Linked DNA regions of Homo sapiens: regions 1, 2, 4 and 5 are each linked to region 3. Evidence: fine-mapped expression QTL. A gene starts in region 3. Each other region holds a variant in brackets. All regions are shown on one strand. Distances are between the middles of the regions. Region 1 overlaps RAB44 (RAB44, member RAS oncogene family). Region 2 overlaps CPNE5 (copine 5). Region 3 holds the start of CDKN1A (cyclin dependent kinase inhibitor 1A). Region 4 has its middle 40 kb from the start of RAB44. Region 5 overlaps CPNE5 (copine 5).

Region 1 (6,081 bases), 52 kb before region 3:
AACAGAGAGAGATCCTGTCTCAAAAAACAAACAAACAAATTCAGTGCCTGGCACATGTTGTATATTCAATTTGTGATGATGGTAAGATGTGACAGACATACAAACGAAGACCATGGCCGTCTCTCCAAGACTCTAAAGCAAGCTCTCCGAGGGCACTGGAAACCCCAGCCCTAGCTGATAAGGGGCAGCCACCATTCAGGAGGTGAATATTATGGAATTCTGGAAACTTCCACAAAAGCTCCAAATAGAAGTGTGTGAATGATTCTGAGTCTCGGCTCCCCAGCTGCTTGGACCCCCCAGCCACACCCTAGCTGCCCCTCAAATGCATCCAGAGACTGACAACTCAGGCCAAAGCCCTGTGCTTGGGGACACCATGGCATTGGAGCAGGGGGCGGGACCCCCAAATGTGACCCCTGGGAGGTGTGTTTTGTATGGTGGGGAAAGGGAGTGAGGTTGGGGCTCTGGAAGACAGGAGGGCATCGAGGCATATCAGAGGCCTTTGGAACATTACTCTTCCCAGGAACCAGATTCTGCTGGGAAGAAAGCCCATGCTTGCAAATAGAAATAGCGAGGGAGACCAGGCCAACAGCGCCCTGCCAAGCAGAGCACAGAGGGACCGCTCTAACACCGAGCAACATGTGATTAACAGGTTACACTAATTAGGAGCCAGCAGCACCCAAGGGAGCTCCTTGGGAAGTTTCTCTCCTCCTCCTCCACATCTCTTTTTTCTGATTATGTATTGAATACTGTTATTGTTGAAAATCTGAAAATACAAATATGTGTAAAATGGAAAGTAACACCCCCCCCCCACATTCTCCCTAAAATTTTACACCCACAGATGTGCGGCCAATATTTTGGTGTATTTTCCTTAAGTCGTTTTTCTAGACTTTCTTTGTTTGGAGAGTTTTGCCATACCCCTGCCCCTCAAGCCTTGTTCACTCAGCAAAGCCCTCCTTTGGAGTGTGAAAGGCAGAGGTGATGCGGCCCTGCTCTGGGATCCGAGTCCTGAGTTGAGAAGGGTTTTCCTGAACCTCCAAGCTGGTCCTCTGTGTCGTTGCTGTCCAGGAACAAAGGACAGGAGCTGAGGGACAGGAAACCCCATGGGTGTCCATCCTACCCAGGACAGGACAGGTGATCAGGAGCAACAGCCGAATCTCTTGGGCGGCCTCTTGGGGGCCACCTTCACCAGCGAGTCCTTCAGGCCTTCTTCTTGCATCCTGAGTGACCTATGTGACAGTGCCAGGCATCAGGCCTCTCTCTCACCTCCTACGGGCAGCACGGATGGGCCCATGGGTGCAGCTGGGGGGTGGGAGGCCGCACCCACAACCCCCACAACAGCTCTGCCCCTGCCCTGCATTCCACATGAGACCCGAAGAATTGAGTCACTGAGACTTTGACCTTCTCTTTCTGGCCTACTATGTGCCAGGCACTGTGCAGGACTCTGACTATGACAAAGAAGCCACCATTCCCTCCCTTGAGTAGTGAGAGAGACAGACAGGAAAAGGGGTGACTGCAGCCCGGGAATGATGGGGAGGCACACAGGGACTTCACACCAGGTCCTGGAGGGATCTGGGGAGGAAGGAGATGGTGACCGAACTGAGCCATGGACAAGGTATGCCAGCAGAAAGGGTGGGGGAGGTGCATCCCAAGCAGAGGGCCATGGCGCGGCTCAGTGCCGAGAGAGCTTGGAGGCTGGGGAAGCAAAAGAAGTCCATTCATTTCTTCGTGATATATTTACTGTGTGCCAGATGGTGCTCATCTGATCTAGCTCCCCTCATGCCTTACTCATTTTATTCATTTATGGAGCACCTAGGTCCCAGGTATGGGGAGAGGGGCTGAACAAAACAGACATGGCCCTGCCTTCCTGGACAACAAGAAAACAGATAAATGCATATATCATTAATATGTGTCGTGTCAAGAAGGGCCATGAAGGACACAAACAGGGGCTGTGATCCAAAATAGTGATGGCAGGTGGGTGATCAGGGAGGGAGTCTCTGAGTGGCTGGAACTTGGCAAGTGTGTGTGTGTGAGTGTGAGTGTGTGTAAGAGTGTGAGTGTGTGTGGGTGTGAGTGAATGTGTGTGTGTGTAGGGGTGGGGGAGATGGCACTAGAGATGCTGCAGGCCATTGCAAAGCATTTGGATTTTAATGGAAGCTACTGGAAGTTTGGGAGCAGAAGAGAGACACTCCTTTTCTCAGCCCTCTTTGCAAATGAAAAAACTGAGGCTCAGAGAGCCTAAGTGCCTGTGGGGAGTGATTCAGCGAACGGGAAGGGCAGAGCTGGAGTCAGGAGACTCTCAGTGCAGGGCTCTCTCTCCCCTCAGACTGGTGAGCCCAGGTCTTTAACTAGGTGCTTCCCTGACCCATTTCCTCAGAATGGGCCTTCCTGTCCCACCTGGGAGTCAAGAGTGGGGCCGGAGCTGTCCCAGAGGATTCTGCAAGGGGGGGGGTGGGGGCGGCGGGGGGCGGGCAGCACTTACCTGGCCAGGTTTACTACAGGCTCCAGGATGTTGTGACCCAAGGCGGCACTGCACTCCCCAAAATAGACCCCCAGTTCCTGCAGGCCAGACAGGGAGGGACATATGTGCCTTGGGAGAGACAACTGAAAGGCCAGGCCATACCCCGCCACTAAAGTCCCGGCCATCAGAGTCCCAATGCATCCCTAAGCTGACCTCAGTGGCGAGCAAGACAGCCCCATCTCAGCGTGGGCCACGGTCCCTGCCTGGAGCCCTTTGCCCACTGTCCCTTCACCCCGGCTGGCCAAGGTGTCAAGGAATGCATTGAAGAGACATTTCACAGCCTTCGGAGTGGCATGGGAAGCCTGCATCCCAACTTGGAGAAATGCCCCTGGAGACATTTTATAAATGTTAGTTATGTTTTTTAATTTCAGAAATATTTCATTGGGGGAATATTGGAAGATATAGTATAAGACAGTACCAGCTCAATATCTAAACCACTGCTGTTAGTGTTTGGGTAGATATTGCCATTCTGTTTTATATAACCCTTTTACGGGGCGGGGGCTAACTGTCCTGTACAGTTAGGTTAAACCACACGAAATTGCTATTTTTGGCAAGCTCCAGTCAAATATCAGCAATTTCATATGTTTCAACCTAACCTATATCTAGATTTGTAGCTGCTTATATGATTTTCTATTATATTGTAAGCATTTCCCCCACACCCTTAAATATTTTTCCAAGACAGGATTCTTAATGGCAAATACTAACCTCTCACATGAACATCCACAGTTTAACCACCAATTGCTGCCAAATGTTTGTTCTTATAAATAATATTTGAAAACCCTCATATAAACCTGTTCGATTGTACGTTATACATGGGTATCCATTAGGTGTTCCTTTAGGGATTATTACTTCTGAGTCTTCCCTTACGATAAATTGCTAGAGGATAAATTACTATGTCAAAGGGATGAGTTACTACTTTTAAGAAAAAGGCCGAGCATGGTGGCTCACGCCTGTAATCCCAGCACTTTGGGAGCCCGAGG[T/C]AGGCAGATCCCTTGAGGTCAGGAGTTCCAGATCAGCCTGGCCAACATGGTGAAACCCCGTCTCTACTAAAAATACAAAAATTAGCCGGGCGTGGTGGCACATGCCTGTAATCCCAGCTACTAAGGAGGCTGAGGTGGGAGAATCGCTTGAACCCGGGAGTCGGAGGTTGCAATGAGCCAAGATCGTGCCACTGCACTCCAGCCTGGGTGACAGAGCAAGATTCCATCTCAAAAAAAAAAAAAAGAAAGAAAGAAAGAAAAAAAATTCCCTTCCAGCAGGAGCCACAATGATGACCTCACAATTTACGGGAAGTGGGAAGAGAAACAGGAAGGAAATACAGTAGGAAGATGCCAAGAGGGGTTGTGTGAGAGGTGGGGCGAGGAGTGATTTTTCCCTCTATTTTTATTACTCTCCAGATTTTCTGGAATGTGGTTAAATGCCATTCATGAATAGATAGTGTTCACTGTCTGGCAGTGGGGCTTTTGATGTAATCATCCCAAGGGAGAATTTGAGTCTTAAAATAGGAGAACTTAGAAGGCAGCACGTTAATTAGAGACCAGAGATAAAATTAAAATTTGATTGGGAATTTTAAGCAAAGCTTTCAAAACCTTTTTACTCTGAAGCTATTTCTTATGTAGGTGGGGACATGGTGTGGGAATGTGCTAATTCAACAGTGAGGTTCAGTGTCACGCCCGCCACTCCAGCCTTGGGTTTGGGCTTAAAGCGCATCTCCAGAGGCCAGGGCTGTGTGGGAGGCAGAGGTGGCTAGGCTGCTGTCCACTCTGAACAGGCCTTTGGTTGGGGCAGGGGCAGGAATGGGCCACGGGTTCTTCTCGGCTGCCCAGGTCAGGTGATGCCTATCCACCACCTGCCAGGGAGGTGTCTGCCCAGTCCACGCACAGAGACGGGCTGATGCCCAAGTGCTTACCTGGGCCAGTTGCTGCCCAGCTTCCACGGACACTTGCCGTTCCTCCTCACAGTCCATCTTGTTTCCCAGGAGAAGGATGACCACCCCATCCGACCCTGCATCCTGCACACAGAACATGTTCTGTCAGCCACACCCACTGTGTGCCAGGCTCCTGGCACATTTGCCTTCCTAGAAGCTGAACTGTGTCCCCCGCATGTTCCCCCTCCCAGGCCACATCCACTCCATAACCTTCTCACCTGGACCCTTTCCCCCATCCTTCCTCTCTGCTGATAAACATCTCACTTATTTTCCAAGGCCAACCTTAAGAACACCTCCCCCAGGAAGCCTTCCTGGGTTGTTCCTGCCCATGTCCTCTCTTCCTGCCTGTTCTGAACAGTCCAGCACTTGATTATACATTTTCCCAATTGTCTCATGAATAATAATAATAGTTTCTGATTAGTGAGTGATTGCTATACACCAGGTGCTGTGCTGAAAGCAATTCTATCAATTAATTGTCACAACTCCCCTATGAGAGAATTCCAGAAATTGAAGTTCAGAGAACTCAATTCACTTGTCCAAAGTCACAGAGTTCGGGTGGGTGGGATTCAAATGTAGGTCCTGTCAGACCCCAGTGCTCAGCTCCCCTCTTCACACATTACCTTATCCTGCTTCTTTTGCTAAACTAGAAACTTCCAGAGAGAAGGCAACATGGCTAACTTCACACCCCTCTGCTGTGCTAGTACACACTGCAGAATTTCAGTATATATGCTTTGAGGAAGTAAGCAGGGGAAAAACTAGAGATGTGTGAACAGAGGAATTACCACATGGAATGGCACAAGAACTACATTAGCCTCAAGTGTAAGAAGAAGACATTACAAACAGCTGCCATATGTAGGAAGAGAATGTTCACAGGATAAAGGAAGTAGTTTGGTTTGAAGTCTGTACTATGTGGTTGTGGTTTCTTTGTACTACTGCATTCCCAGCTCATCCAACCACATGCCCTCAGTGGGTGGTGTCACCCATATGTCTGTCATGTCATTTGTAATCCTGGGAGAAAAGAGGGAGTGGGCAGGATATAAGATCCCTCTTGACTGGAGGGACTGGGGCCAACCCCAGCAGCCATCTGCTCACCTGGAGACAGTCTAGCCAGTAGCGCACGTGGGCAAAGCTCTCCTGGGAGGTGATGTCGTACATGAGCACCACCCCGTCAGCCTTGCGGAGCAGCTGTCGCGTCATACTGTGGTACCTGCCCAGAGAGTCTGCATGAGGCCACACCAGGCATCCAGACCCCAGGCCCTGGCCTCTGCAAAGTGGGAGAAGTAACCTATCCTACTTCTAATTGCTTCCCACAGAGCATGTCCGTATGCTTTTCTTCGTACAGTGTAGTTATTGTTGACTAGGTAACAGTTCTCATGGCTCAAATTTCAAAAGGTCTCAAGGAGAACTCAATGAAAAGTCTCCTTCCTTCTGCCCCATCCTGGAGCCACCCAGTCCCCCTCCCCAGAGGCAACCAGGGTTATCAGTTTCTTAAATATTTTTCCAGAGGCATTTTACGTATATACATATATATACACACACATATATACACCCATACACATACATCTTTCCCCCTCTATTTTATACAAATACAGTGTAAAACATTCATCATACTCATTAATATTCAGTGTTCTGCATT
Region 2 (6,081 bases), 68 kb before region 3:
CCCACCTCAGGCTCCCAATATCCAATTTGAAGCAAATCCCAGCCATCATATTTTATCCCCAAATGCTTTAGGATGTCTTTCTAAAACATAAGGACTCTCTCTTTATCAAACATAACCACAATACCATAACCACACCTAAAAAATTAACAATTCCTTAATACTAAATATCTAGTAAATGTTTACATCTCCCCAATTATCTTATAGTTTTAAAATTGGTTTGTTTGAGTCAGAAATCCAGGCAAGAGCCATAGGCTGTGATTGGTGGGTTGGTCTCTTAATTCTCTTTTCATCTATTCATTCCCCCCAAGCACCTGAATGGCTTGCTAACACAGATTCCTGTACCCCACCAAGAGAATCTAATATTCAGCCAGATGTGGTGGCTCACACCTGTAATCCCAGCACTTTGGGAGGCTGAGGCAGGAGGATTACTTTTGCCCAGGAGTTCAAGACCAGGTTGGCCAATATAATGAGACCCCATCTCTGCAAAAAGAAAAAAAAAAGCCAGGTGTGGTGGTGCGTGCCTGTGGTCCCAGCTATTTAGGAGGCTGAGGTGGGAAAACTGCTTGAGCCCAGGAGGTTGAGGCTGAAGTGAGCTGTGATCACGCCACTGCATTTCAGCCTGGGTGACAGAGCGAGACCTCTTTTCCAAAAAAAGATTCAGGAGAGCTAGATAGAGTCTGAGAGGCCCAGCATATTCCCAGGAGATGGTGCTGCTGCTGTCTCTGGTAGTGCTTCTACAGAGTTTCCCAAAGACTGGATTTTGCTGGCTGCATCTCCTGTGGTGTCATTTAATGTGTTCCTCTGTCCCTTGTATTTCCTGTAACTAACTAGACAGCTCTGGAGCCTCAATCAGAATCAGGTTCAATTTTTTGGTAAGACAACTTCATGGGTGGTATTCTATTCTTTCTTTAGGAGATGCATAATGTCTATTTGACTCTCTTTTTTGTCAAATGAGTTTTCGTCCTGAATCTCACTCCAAATTTGAGTCAGCAATCCAATGAGACCCAACCTCACCCAGCCTACACAGGTGGGCCCAGGGGGTAGGGTTTGTGGAGGAAATAAGTGACCATAGCCACATGCCCACACAGAACACAATCATCTTCAAAGAGCTTTCCTACTGCATAACTCTTCTGATGCTCATTAATCCTGTAAGGGGGGCATAGCTGGCATTACTATCTCAGCTCTCCAGAACTAGAAAGAGATGAATGACTTCACCAAGGCCACACACCTGGCAAGCAGCAGAGCCAGGGTGGTAGCCAATGTCTAGCACTGTCCCCCCTCCCACAGCCCTGCCTCCCTCCAGGTGACTCCCCTGCTGTTCTCCCTCTTCTAGGACCCAGATCAACTTCACTGTGGCCATTGATTTCACTGCCTCCAATGGTGAGTTGGGGGATGGGTAGAGGAGCAGGGTGGGAGGAGAGAGCTTTTAAGGGCTGTGGCATCTGGCCCTGGCTGGGACCATGACCCTCATACTCTCTGGCCTCTTCCTCACCAAAGAGGATGTACCTAGGTCTGGAGGACCAAAGATACAACCAAGATGGCAGTAGTATCCCCAGGTTGGACCATTGACATAAATCTGGGCTCTGAGCCACAGCCTTGTCCTTGAGGAACACCCAGTCTCCCTGGGGGAATGGGATTGTGTGTACTCTGGGCCTATGGAGGGCCCTGGAGATGTTTCCCCCCGGGATCAAATCCCAGCTCCTCTGTGCAGTCCAACCCACAGGCTGGAGTGGAGAATCAGAGCCAAGGCTGAGCTCTGTGGTGTTCAGGGAGGCAGGATCCAGCCCAGGGACCCCAGTCCTTACCTGGCTGGGGCTGCCCTGGCTTCCTTACCTCCTCCCAATTTCTCCAGTGTCAGCCTGTGGCTGAGTCACTAGGAGCAATAACAGTGCCCAACTTTACATGATTAGAAACATCACAACCTCCCTTGGGCTCTGGGCTCTATTAGGGGTGCTCAGTGCTAATTTTTGCACCAATCAAAAATGCCCAGGTCTTGCCCTCTACAGGTGTCAGGAGCTCCTCTTATAGCTGTAAGTCCTAGCATCATAGAGCACTGGGCTATCAGAGCTGGAAGGGGCCTTAGTAATAATAACACTGAGGATAGTTATCATAATATCGATAGCATCTGTGTAATATTCACATCAATCCTATGAAGTAGGAACTATTATTGCTCTGATTTTACAGGTGAAGAGACTAAGGCTAAGGTTAAGGAACTTACCCAAGATCACATAACTAGCAGGAGGTAGACAGGATTGGTACCTTGGCAATCTGTGCTGTACTACCTCCCATCAATGAACAAATAAGTTAAATACAGACTATATTGGCAGCGAAGAGGGCTCTGGGGGGGGAAATCAAGCCAGGAAGAAGGATAGGAAGGATTGGGGGAGGCTGTAATTTTTAATAGGCTGCTTGGAAAAGATCACACTGAGGAGGTGACACTTGAGCAGAGACCTGAAGAGGCCAGGGAGCGGGCCAGGGAGTGGACATCTGGGGAAGAGTGTCCCAGGTAGAGGGAACAGCCATCACCAAGGTCCTGAGGTGGGAATGGCGAGGGGCTGGTGAGGCTGGGACTGGCGAGTGACAGGGAGGAGGGTAGGAGATGACCTGGAGGCCAGATCATGAGTGCTTGCGGGCTCTTGTGAGGACTTTGGGTTTCATTTTGGGGGAGGTGGAGGCATTGAGCGTTTTGGGCAGAGGAGAGGCATGATCTCTCTGAGGC[G/A]GATAGGCTCAGTCACTGCTGTGCTGGATATGGGCTGGAGGCACAGGGGCAGAAGGAAGTGGGAGATCAGTTAGGAGACTGCTGCATCCTATAAGCAAGAGGGTGGTGGTATGGGGAGGAGGAGAGGCGGAGGAGGGATTCTAGATCTGTTTTGCTGAAGGATTTAACATGGGGTATGAGAGAAAGAGAGGAGTCAAGAATTAATAAAAGTTAGGGGTGCCCTTGGACACCCCCTTCTTCATTCTGAACCCGGGGTGACTTGGAGGGTCCAGATGGTCAAAGGCTCCCATGTCCTGTGTTACAGGGAACCCCTCACAGTCCACATCCCTGCACTACATGAGCCCCTACCAGCTGAACGCCTACGCGCTGGCGCTGACTGCCGTCGGAGAGATCATCCAGCACTACGACAGTGACAAGATGTTCCCTGCCCTGGGCTTCGGGGCCAAGCTGCCCCCGGATGGCAGAGTGTCCCACGAGTTCCCACTGGTAGGTGGTCCCGCTGGTGGGAGAGAGGACTGATCAGGCTGGGGGTGAGGTGACAAGCTGGGGGTGGGGGGACGTTTCCCTTCCTCTGAGCCCGGGGACTTAAGGCTCAGCCTCAGTGGAGGTAGACTGCCTGCTGTGTGTAGGGGGGCTCCAGAAATCCACTCCCTTCCCTGATCACAGATGCTGCCCCTCCATGTCTGAAGCTGCCTGCCCACAGCTGGCCCTGGCTTCCTTGTTCCTGACAAGACGCAGGTGCAGGTGGAGGCGAGCTGTGGCTGACCCATCCCTCAGGGCCCCAGAAAAGTGAACAAGGTGGTGTGGGTTGGGTATCCCTGAGTCAGTGCTGAGATGGGATGACGTGGATCTCCAGGGTGATGTGGAGCATGGCGTCATCTGGGCATCCCGGGCCCTGTGGAGATGATTGCACAGGCCACCCCTTTCCCTGGCTCCCACGAGCTGGGGACACTCAGGCACAGCAGACGTCCCTCCCATGCCTGAGGGTGCAAGGTGCTGTGCTGGGCCCAGTGTGCACGTGGACAGATCAGCCACAGGTCCTTCCTGAGTTGCTGAGACCCAGCAGTCATTTTAGGGCAGAGTGGATTTACCCAAGGTTCCCTGAGGGAAGCAGCCAGGGATCTTGGGGCATCTCTGAACAGGTACAGGGAGCCGGGTAAGGAGCAGGTTTGGACCCAGCTCACCTGAAGCATGCACTGCTTCAGGATGGGCCCTGGGAGCTCCCTCCCCTGCCCCGCCACCCCACACCAGAGAAGACCTGGGGGAGCCCAGGCCTGCTGGCCTCCCCACCTGGACTCAGTTCCCACACATCGTGCACCCCTGTCCTTCCTTCCTGGGCTCAGCCTCCCTGCCCTCTGTCCCCCAGAATGGCAACCAGGAGAACCCCTCATGCTGTGGCATCGACGGCATCCTGGAGGCCTACCACCGCAGCCTGCGCACTGTGCAGCTGTACGGCCCCACCAACTTTGCCCCCGTGGTCACCCACGTGGCCAGGTGAGTGCCGCTGCCACCGCCTCCAGGCACTCACAAGGCCTCTGTTTCCACACCAGCTCTGCCTCTGGGTGGTGGGAGGGGGTTTCTCTTCCCACGCACTTGCCTTTCAGGGAGCCCTGACCCTGAAGAGATTCCCCCAAGAGCTGTCACCCTCCAAAGTGTTCAGGGTCCTTGTTTAGGGGGGAACATGCCCAGAGGTCCCGCAGACAGACCTGAGCCCACACCTGCCCCACCCAGGAATGCAGCGGCCGTGCAGGATGGCTCCCAGTACTCGGTGCTGCTCATCATTACTGATGGGGTCATCTCGGACATGGCGCAGACCAAGGAGGCCATTGTCAACGTAAGCAAGGAGTGTGCGGTGGGGGAGGCGGTTTGAGGAGTGTCTTCCTCCCCGTTAGGGGAACCCTGGGGATGTGCCTACCTCCTTGACCTTAGGGAAATGCTTGGAGATGACTTGGGCGTGGCTTCTCATTTCCCTGCCTCACTGGGCCCCACTGCCCTCATCCACCTTCTGGCCTCTGGCTGCAGAGTCCGGTGCTGGATAGTGGATTCTAGCGGGTGGAAGGGGTGCCCAGATCATGAGAGATCTGGCTGGTGAGCTCTGTTCCCACCTCTTAGTCACGCTCTGGTCTACTCCCTCCAGACCCCAATGACTCCCTCATTAACCCATCTCTAGGACCGCTTCCCCCTTTCCCAGGCCAGCCTGGCCAGGTCAAAGGAGTGGGAGGGGAGGCTCAGAGTTGGGGAAGCTCAGGAACATGGCTCCCCAAGCCGGTGGTCTCCCTGTAAGAGGGGATGGGGGTGACTCACCAAAGCAGACCTATGACCCATTCCCCCTGCCACCCTCCCTCTCTCCTCCAGGCGCAGCCTGGTTTCCTTTGCTCTTTATCTCTGAGTGCCCTCCCTCTCCCTACCCCCTTTTCTGTGTTTCTCTGTCTCTCCATGTTCACTCTCCCATTTCTTTCCTGCCCACCCCTTCCTGTCCTACCCCTGATTTCTCCTTCCTTTTAACTGGGTCCCAATTGGGTCCAACCTTTCCCTGCCCCCCATGCTGTCTCCCAGGCTGCCAAGCTCCCCATGTCCATCATTATCGTCGGCGTGGGCCAGGCAGAGTTCGACGGTGAGTCCAGCTGCTGCCTTCCCCTCCTTTCCTTCCCTAGCCACGCAACCCTGCCCCCACCCCAGATGTTTCCCCAGAGGCTGTGGTCCCCTGGGAATGACCCCTCCCAAAAGAGTGAGAGCTCCCGCCTGGGCGTGTGTGTCTGGGTGAGTGTGCAGGGTGTGGGACGCATTTGTTTGCTCAGGGAAGGGTGTGTCAGGTCTGGGTGTGCACCCACACCCACATCCCAAGGCTGTGGGGAGGAGGCCCCAAGTCACTTCTTTCTCCTCCAGCCCTGGGAGTCTGGGGAGGGTGGTGAACCAAAGCACTGGGCTCAAAGTCAGAGGCTCACCTGATCGGGCTCCTCCTGGCCCCTGGCCTCAGTTTCCTCATCTCTAACACGGGGCATGGGCCAGTGGTCTCGGCCCTGGATTGGCCTGGGATGAAAGGACAAGTCCACTCTCCTGCTAGGGCCAGGGGTCCACCGTTAATCTCACCCCGCCCCATGACACTCCTCCCCTCACAGCCATGGTGGAGCTGGATGGCGACGACGTGCGGATCTCCTCCCGGGGGAAGCTGGCTGAACGCGACATCGTCCAGGTGAAGCCCAGGCCTTGCCTGCCCCATGGGAAATTCAAGAGCCCCTCTAGCCAGGCGGACCTCACACCCCCTTTGGGGGCTTCCCTGGTGAAGGGCCCAGAAGGGAGGCACTGGGAGCCCCAAAGTGGCCCAGCCACCACCGAAGGGAGTAGGAGTCAGTCCTCGGCCA
Region 3 (5,851 bases):
AATGGACATTCTGGGTCTCAATACATCATAGGCACAAGGAGGAGGCGCCCGCCTAGGGCTTCATCAAGGTGCTGGATATTCCCTGGCTCTCGGGAGTTCAAGACAGGACTAGGATCTAGGCAGGCACCCTCTCCTCTTCTACCACCCCTCCTTCTCTTATGGCTCTCATAGGCCTCTCCTCCCCCATCAAAATCTGCTCTCATGCTCATAATAACTTTCAGCCCAAAGAAAACTCAGAAACGCAAACCCTTGTTTTAGAAACAATTAAAAATAGCCTCCTTTATTGGCCTTCCTGCCTTAGACTTCAGCCATATTTTAATTTCCAGTAAGAGCTCAGTGAATACTGTTGAACCTAAGGAGTGCTCCTTTGAAGGGGTGGTAATGGCATAGGGGTTGATCTCGGATGAGCCCAGGAGTAGCCGCGGCGGTTCGCGCCGGCCAGCCCCACTCCGCGGGAAAGCCTGTGTGCTATTCCCGCCAGGGCCGGGAGGGGGCGCCGGCCTCCAGGAAATCACGCGCGGAGTGGGAGGTGCGTGGGCAGAGCCTCGGACCGCTGGAGGGAGTAGTGATGAGTCAGTTTCCTGCAAGGCGCTGCTCGCCCGCCAAAACTGCTTCCACTCCGGCTGCGCGTCACCCTGGGGTGGGGAGGGGGAGAATGGGAGGGGACCGGGGGGCCGCGAACACGTCACGCTGAGCCGGCCAGGCTTCCGAAACTCCCGCCGCTGTTGGGAAACCGCGCGCTCTTGTGCCGTCTCTGACACAGACACACACACACACACACACACACACACACACACACACGCCCGCGCAGACACGCACGCGCGCGCGCGCCGGGAGCCGGCCCCTCCACCTTATCTCCACGCCCAAAGCACGGGATGAGTCAGATCCCTGGAAAATAAAAATAGACGGGAGCAACGAAAACAAAACCGCTCGCAAGTCCTCCCAGAAACGCGACGTGGAGGGAGGCAAGGAGAGGGGAAGCTGCCTGGGCGCCCCAAGTTCCTAACCCAGCTCCAAGATGCTTTTCCTCACGAAGAGGGCGCAAGTGTCCCCCAGGGGTTTGGGACGGAGAGGACGCGCTGTGGTCCGCGCCAGGCGGCGGCGCCCCAGGGGGCGACTCGCCCCCCTGCTCCGCTCAGCCCTGTAGCTTTCGGAGAGGGAATCTGGGCTAGGTCGGGAAGCCCTGAGCCCCCGAGGCAGCTGATAGAGGCCCTGAGCAGCGTCGTGCCCCCCAGACCCCCCACCCCTCAAAGACATGAACCCTCCCCGCCTCCCATCCAGGCGTGGGCTCCGCTCCCGCCCCGGAGTCCAGCGCCCCGACCCGAGGACAGGCTGGGCCGCGATTCTCCCGGCCGCGGTGGGAAAGAGGTAGAGGAGACCCTTGCCCTTCCCCGACTGACAGGCTGGTTAGAGCCCGCCCAGAGCAGGGCCGTGACTCCCCGACCCCTACAGCGCGCCGCGGAGCGGGGACCCGACGCGGTGTCCCGGACCTCCAGTGCCCGGCTTCCTTGGGAACAAACTGTTCCAGCCAAATAGGTCACTGTGCCGATGGGAGGACGGAGACCGCGAAGGGGCAGGGGAGAGGGCTTCTGGAGTCCCGCTGTACCCCATCCCGGGCGGGGTTCTGACCTCATACAGTCCGTTCCCTGGGGTCTCCTTGTCACAGTGAGTCACCTCCTCGCTAGTCCTTAGGGGACGGGTCCTGGCACATTCCCAAGGGCCAGGAAACAGCCCGCGCTGACCTCAGCGCTCAGCCAGGTGGTGGACACAGTGGCGTAAAGGACCTGAACCTGGGACCTGGGCCAGGGCGGCGCAGATTGGATCCCAGAGCCACCCGGGACCGATCCTAGACGAACTTACTCCACTCCGCTTTCCTCGCCCTTCCTGGGCCCCTCCAGGGACACGGACTTCATCCCCACGCCGCGAGCAAACTGCGCCTGGGGCCTGGAGCCAACCGCAGCCAAAGGCGAGCTCCCAGAACGGTCCCGTCCACGCCCTCCCTCGCCCCAGCTGGGTTTCCAGGGGCGGGGAGCGTGACCAGGGATTCCTGTACTTGTAATCCCGCTCTCCGCCCCGGGGTCTCCGGCACATCCCGACTCTCGTCACCCGCGCACTTAGAGACACCGTGTGCGCAAGCCGAGCGCGCACCGACCCACGCCCGTCATTCACCTGCCGCAGAAACACCTGTGAACGCAGCACACACCCGCGAACACGCATCCTCGCGGACACGCAGGGACACACGCGGGCACGCTTGGCTCGGCTCTGGGCCGCCGGCCCGGGGTCCCCTGTTGTCTGCCGCCGCTCTCTCACCTCCTCTGAGTGCCTCGGTGCCTCGGCGAATCCGCGCCCAGCTCCGGCTCCACAAGGAACTGACTTCGGCAGCTGCTCACACCTCAGCTGGCGCAGCTCAGCGCGGCCCTGATATACAACCGCCCCGCCCGGGCCCGCCTCAAGGAGGCGGGACCCGCGCTCGGCCCACCGCGCCGCCCGGGACCGCCCTCCCCGGGGCCCAGGCTCCTGGCTGCCCAGCGCCGAGCCAGCTGAGCCTGGCCGAGTTCCAGCAGGCCAGCCGGTCCCGGAACCTCGCGTGCTGCAGGAGGGCACTTCCCTCCTCCCCCAGTCCCTCGCCTGCGTTGGTGCGCTGGACACATTTCCCCACGAAGTGAGCCACAAATCTGGCTTTTTTTACTTGGAGAATGAGTTGGCACTCTCCAGGAGGACACAGCACTGTTAGAATGAGCCCCCTTTCTGGCTCACCGCTGACCCACTCTGGCAGGCAAGGATTTACCCAATGCAGCTGAAAAGATCAGGAGGATGACATTAATACATAAAAATTCATAAATTATAAAAACGATGCACCTCTCTGCAATTTCCAGAAAAGCCCCACAATATCACCTCTATTCCCACTGATCCCTCACTAGGTCACCTCTCCCAGAAGCACCTGGAGCACCTAGACACCCCAACAAAGCATCTTGAGGCCAGAATGATTTTTCAGTCCCGTTTATTTCACAGATGAGGAAATTGAGGTCCACTGAACTTAAGTATACAAAGTTGTTGATTGTCACATGCTTCCGGGAAGGAGGGAATTGGAGAGACTACCAAAAAAGGGCAACCTGATCTCCAGGGAAACAGAAGAATTGGACATTGAACCAATCTCCCTACACCCTACACTCACCTGAACAGAAGAAATCCCTGTGGTTGCAGCAGCTTTGTTGGCCAGGAAGGGGAGGATTTGACGAGTGAGTTGTCTGTCTCCTGAATACTCCCCACATAGCCCGTATACACTGCTGGGGAAACTGGGGCTCAGAGAAGTCTGGTGACCTAACTCAGATCATGCAGCAAAGAAATGACTATAGTTGGAACACAGGACTTTTGCCTCCTGCCCGGGGCTCTCTGCTTGTCATCCTTTATTTCTGTGGCTCCAAAATGACAAAAATGCCAAATAACCCTCATTTGCAGATGGTTTATGGAGATGACATAAATAAAGGACAATTCTGGAAGTGTCTACTGGTTCTTCTGACAGACACAGAAATGAGTGATGTGTCTATCCGCTCCCATCTACCTCACACCCCTGACCTCCCCTGGACTTCACCTTTGCCTCCTTTCTGTGCCTGAAACATTTGCAGTTTTGCTTTTAAAAAATTGCAGAGGATGGATTGTTCATCTGAACAGAAATCCCACTAAAAAACAGAACCCAGGCTTGGAGCAGCTACAATTACTGACATCTCAGGCTGCTCAGAGTCTGGAAATCTCTGCCCAGACATGCCCAGTCTTCTTCCTCTAACGCAGCTGACCTCGGGGAGGACAGGCTTCTTTCTCCTCTGCTGTGGGGATGGGAGCCCAGGTAGGGGTGGGAGGACACAGTAGCAGACCCCCTTGGCCTGCCTCGCCCTGGAGTCAGGCCAGGATTGTGGCTAAACCCCAGAAAGGCCACGGCACAGCCTCAGGACCCCACTCTAAGCCCCACTGCTGTCTGCACCTTCGCTCCTATACATCCAAACCATCCAAAGGGCTGGTTGTCAAATGTCCAGCAGAGGACAGGCACCTTCTCCCACTGCCTTGAAGCCCCTCTGCTTTCAGGCATTTCAAATAGACTAGACATTGTCTGTCTGTTTACTTTGGGGAGAAAATTTTTTTTAATAAAGGCTTGTAATGAATTATTTAAATTTTTGTGGTACTGAGCTTCACAATGAAATAATTCTTTTTGTTGTTGTTTTTGGGAAAGAATTTTTTTTATAACTTCTAGCTCACCACCACCACGACATTCAATATTTCTTAAGTACCTACTAAGTGTCTAGTACTATTCAGTGCTTTAAAAAAAAAAGTTTGCAACCATGCACTTGAATGTGTACCCAGACACACTCTAAGGGAGGACTTCTGCCCTGAAAAAGGCAAGGGAGCAGGCTGTTAAAAGTCACACACAGAATCTGACTCCCAGCACACACTCACACAAGCACACATGCATCAGATCCCAGCCCTGTCGCAAGGATCTGCTGGCAGATCACATACCCTGTTCAGAGTAACAGGCTAAGGTTTACCTGGGGTCTTTAGAGGTCTCCTGTCTCCTACCATCCCCTTCCTCACCTGAAAACAGGCAGCCCAAGGACAAAATAGCCACCAGCCTCTTCTATGCCAGAGCTCAACATGTTGGGACATGTTCCTGACGGCCAGAAAGCCAATCAGAGCCACAGCCTGCTGCCCAAGCATGTTCCTGGGAAGCAGGCAGCATAGGGATGGAGGGAGGCTCAGCCTGGGGGACAAGAGTGCCCAGTCCAGCCCCCTCCCCAGAGTGCGGTGGAGCAGCATGGGGTAGGGGAATGGTGAAAGGTGGAAAGCCCAAGCCTGAAGAAGGAGGATGTGAGGAAGGCTCAGTGGTGGCTGCAGAAGCTGCCTAGGAAGGGAGAGGAAGTGCTGGGAACAATGTCACCATTTCTCAGAAAGAGACTGGGGAGTCCCAAATAGGGGCAGTCAGCTTTCAGAGGAATTCACCTTCACACAGGCTCCCAAGAAGTGAGACCCCAGAGAAGAGGCGGAACAAAGATAGAACATTATTGAGCAGAGGCAGCCCTGGCTTTTTGTTTTCATTTTGTTTTTTTGTTTTGTTTTGTTTTTTGAGACAAAGTCAGCAGTGGCACAATCTCAGCTCACTGCAGTCTCCGCCTCCCAGGTTCAAGCAATTCTGCCTCAGCCTCCCGAGTAGCTGGGATTACAGGCATGCACCACCATGCCCAGCTAATATTTGTATTTTTTTTTTTGCACAAAAAGTTGGATTTATTGTTTCTGACAAGTGGTTAGTAATTTTCAGTTTGCTCATGTTCCTAGCATCACAAATCTGAAGTACAATTTTGCTTCTCAATTAAAAATATATACTGGCCGGGCGTGGTGGCTTACGCCTGTAATCCCAGCACTTTGGGAGGCCGAGGCGGGCAGATCACAGGGTCAGGAGTTTTGAGACCAGCCTGGCCAATATGGTGAAACCCCGTCTCCATTAAAAATACAAAAATCAGCCGGGCATGGTGGTGGGCACCTGTAGTCCCAGGTATTCAGGTGGCTGAGGTGGGAGAATCGCTTGAACCTAGGAGGCGGAGGTTGCAGTGAGCTGAGATCATGCCACCTGCACTCCAGCCTGGGTGACAGAGTGAGACTCCGTCTCAAAAAAAAAATATATAAATCTTTGTGTAAAATGAAAAAAAAATCAAGGCATAAAAATTTCATTGTGTTCTACATTTTTAAATATAAATTGCCTCCTTTAAAATATTTTCATCCATTCATTCAAAAACCTTTTAACTTCAACTGTCCAATTTAAGATAGAGTGAAGACATTTTTGAGTATCTGAACTAAGCATTGTCTT
Region 4 (6,081 bases), 59 kb before region 3:
GGTCAGAGAGGGCCTCTCAGAGGAGGTCATGGTTGAGGTGAGCCCCCAGGAAGTAAGACAGGGAGCCACGCTGATATCTGGGGAAGGGAGCTCTAAGTAGAGGGACCAGCAGGCGCAAAGGCCCTGTGGTAGGAGCTTCCTTGGTGCATTTGCAGGAGAGCGAGGCCAGTGTGGCTGGAGCTGAGTGCAGGAAGGGAAAGTGCTAGAGATGGGGTCGGAGAGGTGAAGAGGCCAGAATGCACAGGCCGCATAGGCCATGATGAGGCCTTTGGCATTTACTGAGTGAAACGGGAAGCCATTGAGGAGGTGAGAGAAGTGAGTAACATCATCAGAATTTCCTCTAAAATAAACGGATTGCTTTATTGCATTTGATCACTCATTCACTCATCTCTCAACAAGTATTTACCAAACATGAGTGCCAGGCCCCACTCACGTATTGGAGACCATGCTGGAGATGCACACACAGAATTGCACCCTCAGGGGTGCCCCTGCTCTGGGGCAGTGAGCGAGGAAATACTACAACCATGGGGTACTGATGCCAAGCCATCAGGAGGGGCTGGGTAATCTGTGGGCACCAGAGTCACTGTGCCATGAGGAGGAGTCTGGCATCCCCTGTGCAATGGGGTCGTCACCACCACCCCCATCCTTGCAGGGTCATCGTGTGGCCAGAGTGACGAGTACATAAGGTTGCATGTGACATATGTGACATGCGCCCAGGACCCATGGCATTTTAGGTGCCCAAGAAACACTGTTTTCCTCTTGTTCCTCTTCACATATAAATCCCTGTGGCCATCAGGGACCAGGATCATAGCAAAAGGGGATTTCTCCCTTCTCTGGGCAAGTTTGTTCCCAGATTAGCCCTCCAGGCAGCCATTCCCACCCTGAACATCACAAGAAATTTGGAACTAATTATACCAAAGTTTGGGACTTGTTTACTTCTTATGATTTTATAGTAAATGGGTGCTGATTCACGGCTGTCCCTATAATTACATGCCCCTGTGACTTACATTCTGATATGCTTTGAGTGGGAACAGGGTGGGGTCACAGCTTGGAAGGAGGGAAGTTCCCATAACCAGCAGCTCATGTCACCTCACCACAGGGGCCGTGGGAAAGTGTCAGGAGAGGGTGCTTGCCTGGCAGGGGGACTGAGGCACAGAGCCACTGCCGGGGGCGGGACGGGACACCAAGAGCATCTTTGCTGTGCCCAACACCGTAGCATCTTGTGGATTCTTTCCCAAGGTGTGTTCCACAGAATACTGGCTCTCTGGCATGGAGTTTGGGAACCTGCCTGCTGTGCGTCCCTCTCGAGAGTCTCAGTGGCCTTTTGGGTATTCAAGGCTCTGGTAAGTCCTACAGCAAAGGGACCAGTATGATTTGGTTCAACCCAACGTTTCTCAAGCTTTGTATCACAGAGTCAGTGTGTGTATGTGTGTTTTGCTGGTAACACCGTCACCAAGCAGAACGTGCTGTCTTGGGAATTTCAGTAGAGACAATCTCCCGGGTTTCCAGGCCAACATGGAAGCCTGAAGCCTGCCCTGAGCAGGCCAGAGGGAGGGCACTGAGGGTGGGAAAAATGGAAACCTCAAATTGGGCTCTGGAGAGAAGAAAAGGGCTCTGAAAGGGATCCCTGCCCCAGGTGCTTCAGGAAGAGAAGCCACAGGGAAGAAAGGAGGGCTTCAGACATTCACAGTCCCGGAGTCATGGCTGCATGGTTGACTGGATTTTTGTCCCCCTATTGGACTGAGGGGTGTGTGGAACAGAGCTGGAGGGGTGGGCAGAGAGGGGAAAGGCTGTCCTGCCTCTGAGCTCACCCCCCAGGCTGTGGCTGGCCCTCTGCTCCCCCTACTCAATCTCCTGGCCTTCAGGATTAAGGACCCTAGGCTGTTACCCCCCAGATCATTCTCCACCCACTTCTCTGCCTTTGGAAGCCCCTCTGTCCTCCTCTTGTCCACTCACCTCAAATACCCCTGAATTAATACAAATAAAATAATAATAGTAGCAATGACCAGCACGCATATGCACTTACTAAGCATCCTTCTAAGCACTTTACATGTGTTTAGCAAATTCATCTTCATAACAACCCTGTGAAGAAGGTATGTACTGTCATCATCCCATTTTCCAGATGAGAACACTGAGACACAGAGGCTCAAGATCACACAATTAGAGAGCAGTGGAGCCTACAGAGATCTGAGCCTGAAAGTGGAGTGGGAGGATCCATCTGGTTACCTAGAGATGTGAGCTCTAGCTGAGCCATTTAGTTGCTTTGTGACCTTGTTTGGGCCATCTGCCCTCTGGGTCTCAGTCTCTCCACTGGTAAAATAGAGGGGATGGGCTGTCAGGTCCCTAAGGGTCTTCCCATCTCCCTTGAATCTCAGCGCATCCATCAGCCTATACTCTTAGACCCCCGCCAGGCCCCACAGGCCTCCTGAGGCCCTGTCACGGCCAGGCTGGACAGTCGCCACCACTGAGGCTGCCACTCCCACACCTCTGGGATGCCTGGCCATCATCGGCCTGCAGAAGAGGTCCCTGAGTCCTGCCTGGAAGGGGCGGGAGAGGTAGAAGCAGAGGATAGGGCTGACAGCGCAATTGGAGTAGGCCAGGATGGTGCAGAGGCTGGAGGCCACAAAAGCAGCCGGTGTGGCAGGCAGGTAGCCCATGGCTGCCACATAACCCAGCATGGAGCAGGGCCCCCACATCAGCACAAAAACCACCAGCACCACAAGGCTGAGCCCTATGTTCTCTTAATGCTCCTGGATGCTCTCTCCCATGGGACCTTGGGGCTGGGTCCACAGGAGCCAGCCCACGTGGCTGAAAGAGCAGCCCAGCCCCAGCGTGCATGGCAGGAAGGCCAGGGCTCCCAGCAGGCTGATGTAGCAGGAGGTCCCAGCAGGGCTCAGGAGCAAGAGGCAGGCCTGGGTCTTGGGAGCCCCCGCTGTCTCCTCCTCCACTGCCACCCTCTGGAACAGCCAGTTGGGCAGGGATTCTGTAAGGCCCAGGGCCCACATGGCCCCACAGAGCAGCAAGAGGGTGCCCCAGCCGGCTGGGAAGGCCAGGTCAGGCCGGGCCACAGCCACATGGCGCAGGAGAGCTGTGGCCACCATGCTATAGAAGATGCAGAACGTGGTGGCTGTGTTGGTGGCCTGGCTAATGGTGCAGATGGCAGGGCCCAGCCACCAGTTGTGCTGCAGGAAGCTCAGCAGCAGCACAGGCACCACGCAGGCCAGGAAGAGCAGGTCAGATGGCGTGATGTTCATCATGAGGCTGTGGGTCAGGGAGTGGAGCGGGTGGGGGGAGCCCGGGCCCCGGCCCACCACCAGCAGCATGAGCCCATTAGCTGACAGCCCCACCAGCAGGATGAGGCCACAGACCCCAGCAGAGATGAGTCGGAGCAGTCGCTCAGGTGTGGCCGTGAGCTGCGTGGTGAACGTAGCATTGGGCTCCATTCTGTTTCAAACACACAAGGACAAAGTAGAAACCAGCCAGCCCCAAAGGCCGCCTTCCCCATTCCTGCTAAGCCTCCTTTTTTCACAGACCCCCTGCATGTAGTGGGCCCAGATAAGGCCTGTCCTTGGCACACATTAGCCCCTGCAGACCTCATGACAACCCCATGGGATGGACTCCATTAGTACCCTGGGTTCAAATCCTGCCTCTGCTGCTTGCTAGCTCCAGTACCCTGGGATTTATTTATTTATTTATTTTTTTAGAAACAGAATCTCACTCTATCACCCAGGCTGGAGTGAGATCTTGACTCACTGCAACCTCCGCCTCCTAGGTTCAAGCGATTCTCATGCCTCGGCCTCCCAA[A/G]GTGCTGGGATTACAGGCGCCACCGCACCTGGCCCCTGGGAGAGTTACTTAATGTTTCTCTACCTCAGTTTCCTCAGCTGTAAGAAAGCAAGGAAATAAAATAAAACAGATGTCAATAGTAACTATCATAAGTGGTAAGACTAGGGTAATTTTCATTTTCTTCTTTAAAATTTATTTCTAAAATTTCTGCAGGGAGTACACATTGTTTTCATAATCTGATAAATATATATGTGCATACATACACACACACATATGTATCTATTTTTTGACAAAACAAAAACCCTGCCCTGTGAAACAAGCAGGTTTAATTTGAGGTTCAAATGGAAAAGTGGGTCTGAAAGGGCTTTGAGAAGGTGTGAAGCCCCTTCCAGTGGTTCCCAAGCTTCTCTGCACTTTGGGATCACCTGAGGAGTTTCACAAATACAGAAGCCTGGGTCCCACCCCCAGAGACATGACATAGTTGGTCTGGGCTTTAGCATTTTTGAAAGATCCCAAATAATTCTAAGGGCAGACCAGCCTGGGAATCATTGCCCTCTAGGTTATGCTGTGCAGGCCCCTGGCAGAGTGGGGGAGTCTGCACCCAGTGGTCAGACCTTTCTTCTCACCCCCACTCTGTCCCACATGTCAAGGGCAGGGGGAGTCCCCGATTGGGAGGACTCTGGCTACAAGATGGGATGTAGACATCCTAGAGCCAGCCCAGTGGCTGATGTCACCATTGGCCGCCCTGCAGGCCAGGCCAGGGCCCGGGAGCTTTAGCTGGAGGCTTGCCTGCTAACTCAGTACATATTTCCTGAGCATTTGCTCTGGACCAGGTTCCCGGAATCCAGCAGCAAACAAGACATAGCAGAGGAGTCCTTACTGGAGTTGCCCTCCCCTTTTCTACCACACCGGGGTGGGGGCTGGAGACACTCTTCTCCTGCGGGCTCAAAGCCAGGTTTGAAGGAGTCTCTGAGTCCCTCCTGCAGAGCCCCAGCCTGGGGAACTTGGCTTCGTCTCTGGGGCCCCAGGGCAGCAACGTGCCTGAGGGCAGCTGAGGGGAGACTGGAGAGGGGGCCTCTGTGAATTCTGATGTCGGCCACCTTCCCGGGTCCCACCAGCTTCAGAGACGGCAGGAGGAGGGGAAATGAAGGACCTGTCCTGGATGAAGGCTGTCATCCAGCCACTTTCCTGGCATTTATCACTGCCTTTTCGTCTCTTTTTCCTGGTCCACACCCACCAATGACATGGACTATTACTGGAGAGGAATTGGCAGGGAGCAATACGAGGCTTCAGGGACCTGGCCCCTCCTTCCCCGAAGCATCCGCATCTTCCTGTAAGCAGTTGCATAACTTCAGAGTTAAGTCTATGGGTATCGGCGTTTGCGTTTAACACTGGCTCCAGCACTTACTTGCTACGTGACTACGGGGAAGTTACTCAGCCTCCCTATGCAGTACTTTCCTTTTCCGTAAGATGGGGGAGCACGCCTGATGGTGTGAGGGCTAAATGAATTAACACGAGCTAGGTGCTCAGAACAGTGCCTGGCATACGGTAGGCACTGGGTAAAGGAGGGATGTCATTCTGCCCCTGCTCACCCTCAGCTCCCAAAAGCCCTCTTCTCTTAGAGCTCCTGCCCAGCCTTCCTTCTCTCCCCATGCCCTCCCTTCTCACTCCACAGCCTGAGTCCCATCAGCCCAGTCCCACCCTCCTTTTCTTAATCAGACTCTGGCTAAGCCTAAATCAGAGCCTCCTTGGCTGACATGCCCCAAGAACTCACCACTTGCCTGGAAGTTCACTCTGAAGTCTACCTCAAGTTTCTCCTGCTGCTGTCGTTGCCTACTTTGTGCTGCTCTGAGGTTCCTGGGTCCTGTTCCCTGGCTTGTGAGCCCTTTGACAGCAGGAAAGGCTGGTGGTCCTTGCACAGCTGTGCCCTGCCCAGCAGGTGGATCCGGCCCAAGAAAGCCAAAAGAGGGTGCTGGGCAGTGTGGAGTTCCTCCCAGAACTCCACCTCCTGCGAACCTGAGTTGCCTGAGGCCACAACAGAGCTGAGCTGAGACGGGGAGGCCTGGGGGCCACTCCCGTACCGGGCCCCCAAACGACAGGGGCTGTCTGCTCTACTGCCTCTCCCAGGAATCACACCCTGCCTACCTGCCTCATTAATTCCCTGGCCTACAGGACAGAGATGTTGGTGCCTGCCAGGTCCCTGGGCCCCAGAGAAAGAGCCATTAGCAACTATAGGACCTGTTTCCCATCCTTATCCAGGGCCAGCATCACTCACTGCAGCCCACACCCCTCTCTCTC
Region 5 (6,081 bases), 77 kb before region 3:
TTTTTCACTGGGCATTCTAGGCTCTCCTCCAACCAGCCCAGCTTACTCTTCCACCCTGTGGTTCTGCCATCAAACTGGGCCTGGGTTCTATTCATTTCTCCCACAGAACCTCCTCTGACATCCATCTCTCCGTGCCCAGAGCCTTCCTGTGCCTCTAAGTCTGCCTTCAAGACTTCCTGCTCCAGAGAGGCTTTGCTGACACTCTCACCTAGAGTGGTCTTTCCTTCCTCTAACTCCCCTGACACTTCTGTGATCCCCCTTGTTCCATGGCCCTTGTCACTTTTTGCCCTGAGGACATATCTTCTCTCTCCAACATAGGTGATAGATGATTCCAGGGGAGAAGCAATATATGTCTCCACCCACCCCATAAATGTATGTCAAAGAGATCTGTTTGTATCTGTTATCAAGGTGGCACCAATGTATGCACCACTGGCCCGGGGGCAGGAAACCTGGTTTCTAATCCTGTCACTACCCAGATGGCTGTGTGACTTTAGGCAAATCACCTGGTGTCGCTGTGCTTTAGTTTCCTTCTTGCTGGAAGTAGATAGCAATACTCACCCAGACAGAAGAGACCACGGTAAAGATCAGCTGACGGCCTCTGTGGGAACAAAGACAGGGAAAGGGGAAATGAGTTCACCAGAAACCAACAGGCAGCACAGGAGGTATGAAAATTGCCTGGCTTTGTTTGATGGGACATTAGGGAAAAGTTGTGCCTAGACTTCCCTTATTAAAAACAAAACAAAGAAAAACTGGCGAGGGTCAAATGAGAATACAAATACAGTAAGTGCGGAAGTCTCGTGGGGGGCCTCAGGGCTGGGTGGCTCTCGTCACTTTGCCCAGTCTTGGCCTTGGCACTACTGGGATTTGGGACTGCATCACTCCCTGCCGTGGGAGGCTGTCTTGTGTACTGTAGGATGTTTAGCAGCATGCCTGGCCTCTACTCACCCCCTCAGTTGTGGAAACCAAAACCGTCTCCAGATGTTACCAAACGTTCCTGGGGGTAAAATCGCCCCTGGTTGAGACCGCTGAGTTAGCCACCAACAAGCCTTCTCTGAGCACCTACTCTGAGCCTAGCCCCATGATTTATCTGACACAGGTCTGGTTTGGAAGTTAAAGCTTACACTCAAAGAATAGCTAAAGAGGTTCTTGCTGCCAAGTAAGAGGGATGGTGATGGAGAGGGGAGCCTCAGAGGCCCTGGGCAGCCCTTGGGCTGGGTCCCAAAGGAGGAACAGGGGAGATTGGAATTGGCTGAGAGAGGAAGGGGGTGCATTTTTGGTGAGGGGAGCAGCCTCAACCAACACAAGGGACAGGTACAGATAGGGCCGCTTTGCAACATCAAGACTTCTTTGGCTATACTGGGTGGAGGGTGCGTGTGTTCCGGGGAACAGTGGGAGAGAAGGTTAAATAAATATTCCCGGTTGATCGTGGGACCCTGGGTCTGATGGGAGAACCCAGTTGTGTAACCCAGACTCAATACCAGTCTCCCACAAATCCTCCTTAAACCCTTCTCCCCTGGCCCCGTGGTCTTCACACCCCACACTCTAATGGGGCTGGGCTTGGACCACACCCATGGGTGGTTGGAAGCCCTCAAGACTCACCCTGACTGCCTGGAAGCATGCCTTACCTGGTAACTGGTTTTTCCTGCAGGTGGTAAACCCGAAAAAGAAAATGAAGAAAAAGAAATACGTGAATTCTGGCACAGTGAGTAGCCACCCCGGTCTCTGCAGCCGGGTGTAGACATTCTGAGCCCCAAGCTAGGTCTGGTATCAGGGAGGCCCGTGCGTCTGTGTGTGTGCAGGGGCTGAGCGTGGGAATCAGACATCCAAGAGAGATGGGGTGGGGAGGGGTGGGGCAGATGGAGCAACAGCCAGGGGAGAGAGTTGACTTGCAGACCACACAACAGGCGCTGGCTGTATCTAGCATGAGGAATCGCAGAGACATCCACGGGACTTCCTGCAGGAAGGAAGAGGAAGAGAAGTCGTATTTATTGGGCCCCTACCCTGGGAAATTCCCCACGTTGGTGCTTTTCACAGGTTGTTGCCCTGAGAGGCAGATATTATCATCCCCTAGTCATGAAAGAGGAAACCAAGGCTGCAAGCAGGAAAGTGACTCAGCCAAGGTCACACAGCTAGAAAGTGGTAGAGATGGGACTCAACATGACATCTCACTCCAGAGCTGGCAGCTGCTACGGGCGCTGCCCCTGCTTAACCGTGACCTTCCTGGGATGACACGCCGGCCTAGTGGCTTCTCGGGGCTGGTCTTGAGGACATTCATACGCTT[C/A]TTCAGCAAATACTTACTGAGTGCTACTGTGTGCCAGGCACTATTCTAGGCACATCAGATACAGCTGGAAACAAGACAGACCCAAATCCCTGGTGCTTATATTCTAGTGGGAGGAGACAGAGAAAAAAAAAAAACACACACACACACACACACATGCCTGTGTGTGTCAGTTGATTATGAGAGCTATGGAAAAAGTATAAAGGGTAAAGGGACAGGCAATGGAGGAAGTATTGAGGATACTGGGGAAAGGGAATTCCAGCATTCCTGCTGTAGAGAACAGCACATGCAAAGGCCCTGAGGTGGAGCTCACAGTGCATTTCTAGAACAAGCCACTTTCTCTGCAGTGCAAACACACCCAGATTCATCCTCTCTGTGTTCCTTCCTCACTCTAGAGGCCCATGGCTAGTGCAGCCAAGCCTGGTCATTTGAGTCAGGCAGACTGTATCTCCAGACCTAGAAGAGGTTTTCAGGAGCTCTGGGGTTCCTCTGAGAAGCCTCATTTTCTCCGTCTGTAAAGTAGGACTAATAAATCATCCCCACCTTGCCACTGCACAGGGCAGCTGTGACAGACACATGGGAGATGCAGGCTTGTGAACTGTAAAATTACTCTGCTCATTCAAAGGGGACTGAACACCACTTCTTTGATTGTAACTGCTTCACAGACTGGGGCTTGGAGTCATATTTCCTTTGTCCAAGGCTGCGGTGTTTCTTAGTGGAGAGGCTGTCAGCATTTGGGCAGGAAAATTCTTCATCTCACAGGATGTTTAGCACCCCTGGCTGCTGCCCATAGCTACCAGTAGAGCCCCAGTCATTATGAGAACCCCCAAAATTCTCCCACGCCTTCCTAAATTCCCCTAGGGAAGACAGCACCTTCCCCAGCTGGGAATAAAAAGGTTCAAAAACCACTGATCTCATCCAGCCTTCTTACTTTAGAGACGAAGAAACTGTGGCCTAGAGAGGGCATGCGATTTGTCCCAGGTCACACAGTGAGCTGGAGACAGAGCGGGCCTAGGCCCAGGTCTCTTGACTTTCCTTTTACTCCAGCATTTCCCCATCTTCATCGCGAAAAATCACCCGGGATGCAGAAAGCTTGCTGAAATACAGACGCCCAGGCCAGTTCCCTGGGATTCCACTTTAGGAGGCCCAGGAATCTGTGTTTAGTGCTTTTCATCCCTTACTTATGGTGTGCAGAATCCCCTGGGGATCTTGTGAAAATGCCAAGAATCTGCATTTCTGCATTTCTACCTGGCATCGAGGTGATGCTGACGCTCTGGTCTAGGGACACTACCCTTTGAATAGGGGAAAGTCTGCTTTCACCCTGCGAGCCCCTGGGTGAACCCATATGGTCAGGGCAGTTAGGGCATTGCTTCATCCTGGGGGTTGGAATGGGGAGTGGTCAACTGTGTCTGCAGATTAGACTTACGTGAAGAGCTAAAAAAAAAAAAAAAAAAGAAGATCTCTGAAACATTCATGTAGCCCCGGAAACTCGGCTATAATGGGTCTGGGCTGCAGGATGATCTAAGAGCCCCCAGGGCATCTCATGGTCATCAGTCAGGGTTGAAGCCACTGCCGTGGTTCCTAGTAAGTCTGAGCTGCCACACTTGGAAGGAGGCCTGTGGTTCATCCAGGTGCCTAATACCTTAACCACAATAGCTGGGGGTCTTACTGCCAAGTAAGGGTGGTGCTCTCACCTGGCCCTCCCAATGAGCCTGTAAAAACAGCTGAATCTTCATGAATAGGGGGCTCCCAAACTACCAGAGAGGAGTTCGTTCTCTTACACAGGTGAAAGGTCCTCTGCCCTAATCTTGTCTCATATAATTGGCCTAGGATGCCAGGCTTTCATTTGTCTCCTTGATTCTAAATTGTTATGATAATGAGCTGCCAGGTAGCTGCCTGTCTTGGCAAAGCCAAAGCTAACTTTGCCAGGGCATAGGTTAAAAGGCCTCTGCTTGGGGGAGGGGGCCTGGGGTAGTCAGTTACCTCTGGGGAAAAGGATGGGCTACTTATGAGGCAGGATCTTGGGTCTGAGAGGGATGAGATGGGACCAGTAAGATTTAAGATAAGCACAGTCCAAAGAGGCACATTTCAGGACTAATAGCTCTAGGCACATGGAAGCCTGAAGCTGGTCGGCATTGGCAGGTTGTTAGGCCTGTGCCAGGAGGGCCCCCTTGTCCTCCACACCCCACCCTAGGTCCCTGGGGCTGAAGAGCCAGTGCCCACTTAGAGGAAACTAACACCCTTGGCTTGGACCCCGGTTCCACTGACACAGATGGGACCCTTCCGTCAAGGTCAAGAGTGCAGGCTCTGAAGTCAGACACACCCTGGTTTCAGATCCCTTCTCTGCCCTGGCAGTGTCCTTGGGCACATTGCACCACCTCTTTGGGTTTCAGTTTCCTTGGCTATAAAGTGGGGATAATAATAGTACTTCATGGGGTGGTGTGGGCAGTGCATGCAGTCATGCATGCAAAACTGGCACATGCCGAGTGTTCTGTCAATGTCAGCTCTCGAATCATAACCCATCTCCCCTGACCCCAGGCTCCCCACTGACCAAGCTCCCTTTTGTTTTGAAGGTCACCCTGCTTTCCTTTGCTGTGGAGTCAGAGTGCACCTTCCTTGACTACATCAAAGGAGGGTGAGAAGAGATACAGCCAATTTCATGGGCCTTGGGGAGAGGGAAAGGGCCCCACACACCGACAGGACCGGCTCTGGCCCCACCCTGGCCTCTTCAAAGCCCTGGTTGAAGGCTGTGGTGCTGGGCTCTGAGCAAACCCTGGTGTTTGGGCTGAGACAACTCATCCAGAGCCCTGCACATCCCCAGATCCCAAGCAGCTTGGAGGGAACTCCTGAGCCAAGGAGGCTGGCCTGGGTCATGTCAGGTCTCCATGCAGAGACAGGACCTGGAGCTGGTAGGGACTCCGTGACAGAAAGCCAAGGGCTTGGGGATGTAGAAAGAACCCTGCAATAGGAGTCAGGAGGCCCAGGCTCTAGGCCTCTCTTTGCCATTAATTTGCTGGGTTCCTTTGGGTGAGTCATTTTTCCTCTCAGGGTATCAGTTTCCTCCTCTGTACACAAAGAGAACGGAATAGGTAAGTGTTAAGGTTCCTTACAGCTCTGAGCTTCTGACACCTCTGATCTGTCTGGTTGGGGGAGGGGGACAGTGATTAACCTGCTCACTGTTATTAGGGCCCTGTAAGGGCAGCGGGATTGGGGATAAGCCAGGGATTGGTCCTGGGGCCAGCAGGTGGTCAAACATGAGTTTAAGGAGCAGAAAGAACCACCAGGCACAGTGTCTAGGCCCAGACAGATGGGGGAGCCAGGAGGCCCCAGCCAGCAGCTCACGGAAAGAGCCTGGCTCTAAGGGTAGAGCCTGCCCAGCATGCTGCCTGCCAGGACAGGTGCCAGGTCAGGGCGTGGGCAGCCAAGAGCCCGCAGGTGAGTGACTGCACCTGTCTGGAAAGGAGACAGGCAGGAGCAACTGCCAAAGGCTCATCCCAGCCAAGTGGACCCTTGGCTGCCTGGTTCTCCAGGGCAGAGGGAGAAGTCAGGTCCTGGGAAGCCACACTCACTTTCCCATGACAACACTCCCTGCTGCCTTGAGCTTGCAGTCTCAAGGCTGCAAGCTCTCCTCCTACCCACTGAGCACACACCCTGCCTCCAGTCACTCAGGAGCTCCTCTGCTCTTACCTGCCCCTCCTCTGGGCTGACTCCAGACCCCGCCTTTGCACTCTTCCCCCATCAAAATTGCTTCCCTCTCAATCCCATTAATCAGCCACCCCTTACAGTCCATAGCACCTGGTAAC

What was found. PIP is the estimated chance that this variant, and not a neighbour inherited with it, causes the effect.
Region 1: its variant is fine-mapped to the expression of CDKN1A in whole blood (TOPMed, PIP above 0.99).
Region 2: its variant is fine-mapped to the expression of CDKN1A in whole blood (TOPMed, PIP above 0.99).
Region 4: its variant is fine-mapped to the expression of CDKN1A in whole blood (INTERVAL, PIP 0.93).
Region 5: its variant is fine-mapped to the expression of CDKN1A in whole blood (TOPMed, PIP above 0.99).

What each region holds. Positions count from the first base shown.
Region 1 is chr6:36,727,148-36,733,228 of GRCh38, reverse strand. RAB44 (RAB44, member RAS oncogene family) reads right to left here. Exons shown (of 14, transcript NM_001257357.2): 11 at 5,538-5,652; 12 at 4,428-4,529; 13 at 2,480-2,556; 14 at 45-1,226. The coding sequence ends at 1,136. Among named protein-coding and RNA genes, the nearest start is that of RAB44, 32 kb to the right of the region's middle. The variant T/C (reference allele first, on the strand shown) is at 3,499.
Region 2 is chr6:36,743,520-36,749,600 of GRCh38, reverse strand. CPNE5 (copine 5) reads left to right here. Exons shown (of 21, transcript NM_020939.2): 15 at 1,334-1,380; 16 at 3,024-3,205; 17 at 4,086-4,213; 18 at 4,451-4,553; 19 at 5,276-5,333; 20 at 5,839-5,912. Among named protein-coding and RNA genes, the nearest start is that of RAB44, 49 kb to the right of the region's middle. RefSeq lists a silencer at 4,468-4,668. The variant G/A (reference allele first, on the strand shown) is at 2,720.
Region 3 is chr6:36,675,258-36,681,108 of GRCh38, reverse strand. It overlaps CDKN1A (cyclin dependent kinase inhibitor 1A), which reads right to left and starts at 2,395. Exons shown (of 3, transcript NM_000389.5): 1 at 2,311-2,395. It overlaps DINOL (damage induced long noncoding RNA), which reads left to right and starts at 2,550. Exons shown (of 1, transcript NR_144384.1): 1 at 2,550-3,500. It also overlaps the pseudogene LAP3P2. RefSeq lists silencers at 393-782, 2,353-2,582 and enhancers at 1,514-2,101, 2,113-2,302, 3,495-4,694, 4,674-4,743, 4,794-4,883.
Region 4 is chr6:36,734,367-36,740,447 of GRCh38, reverse strand. It overlaps the pseudogene GPR166P. Among named protein-coding and RNA genes, the nearest start is that of RAB44, 40 kb to the right of the region's middle. RefSeq lists an enhancer at 4,687-5,188. The variant A/G (reference allele first, on the strand shown) is at 3,805.
Region 5 is chr6:36,751,866-36,757,946 of GRCh38, reverse strand. It overlaps CPNE5 (copine 5), which reads left to right. Exons shown (of 21, transcript NM_020939.2): 13 at 1,649-1,702; 14 at 4,852-4,913. Among named protein-coding and RNA genes, the nearest start is that of RAB44, 57 kb to the right of the region's middle. RefSeq lists an enhancer at 1,386-2,585. The variant C/A (reference allele first, on the strand shown) is at 2,282.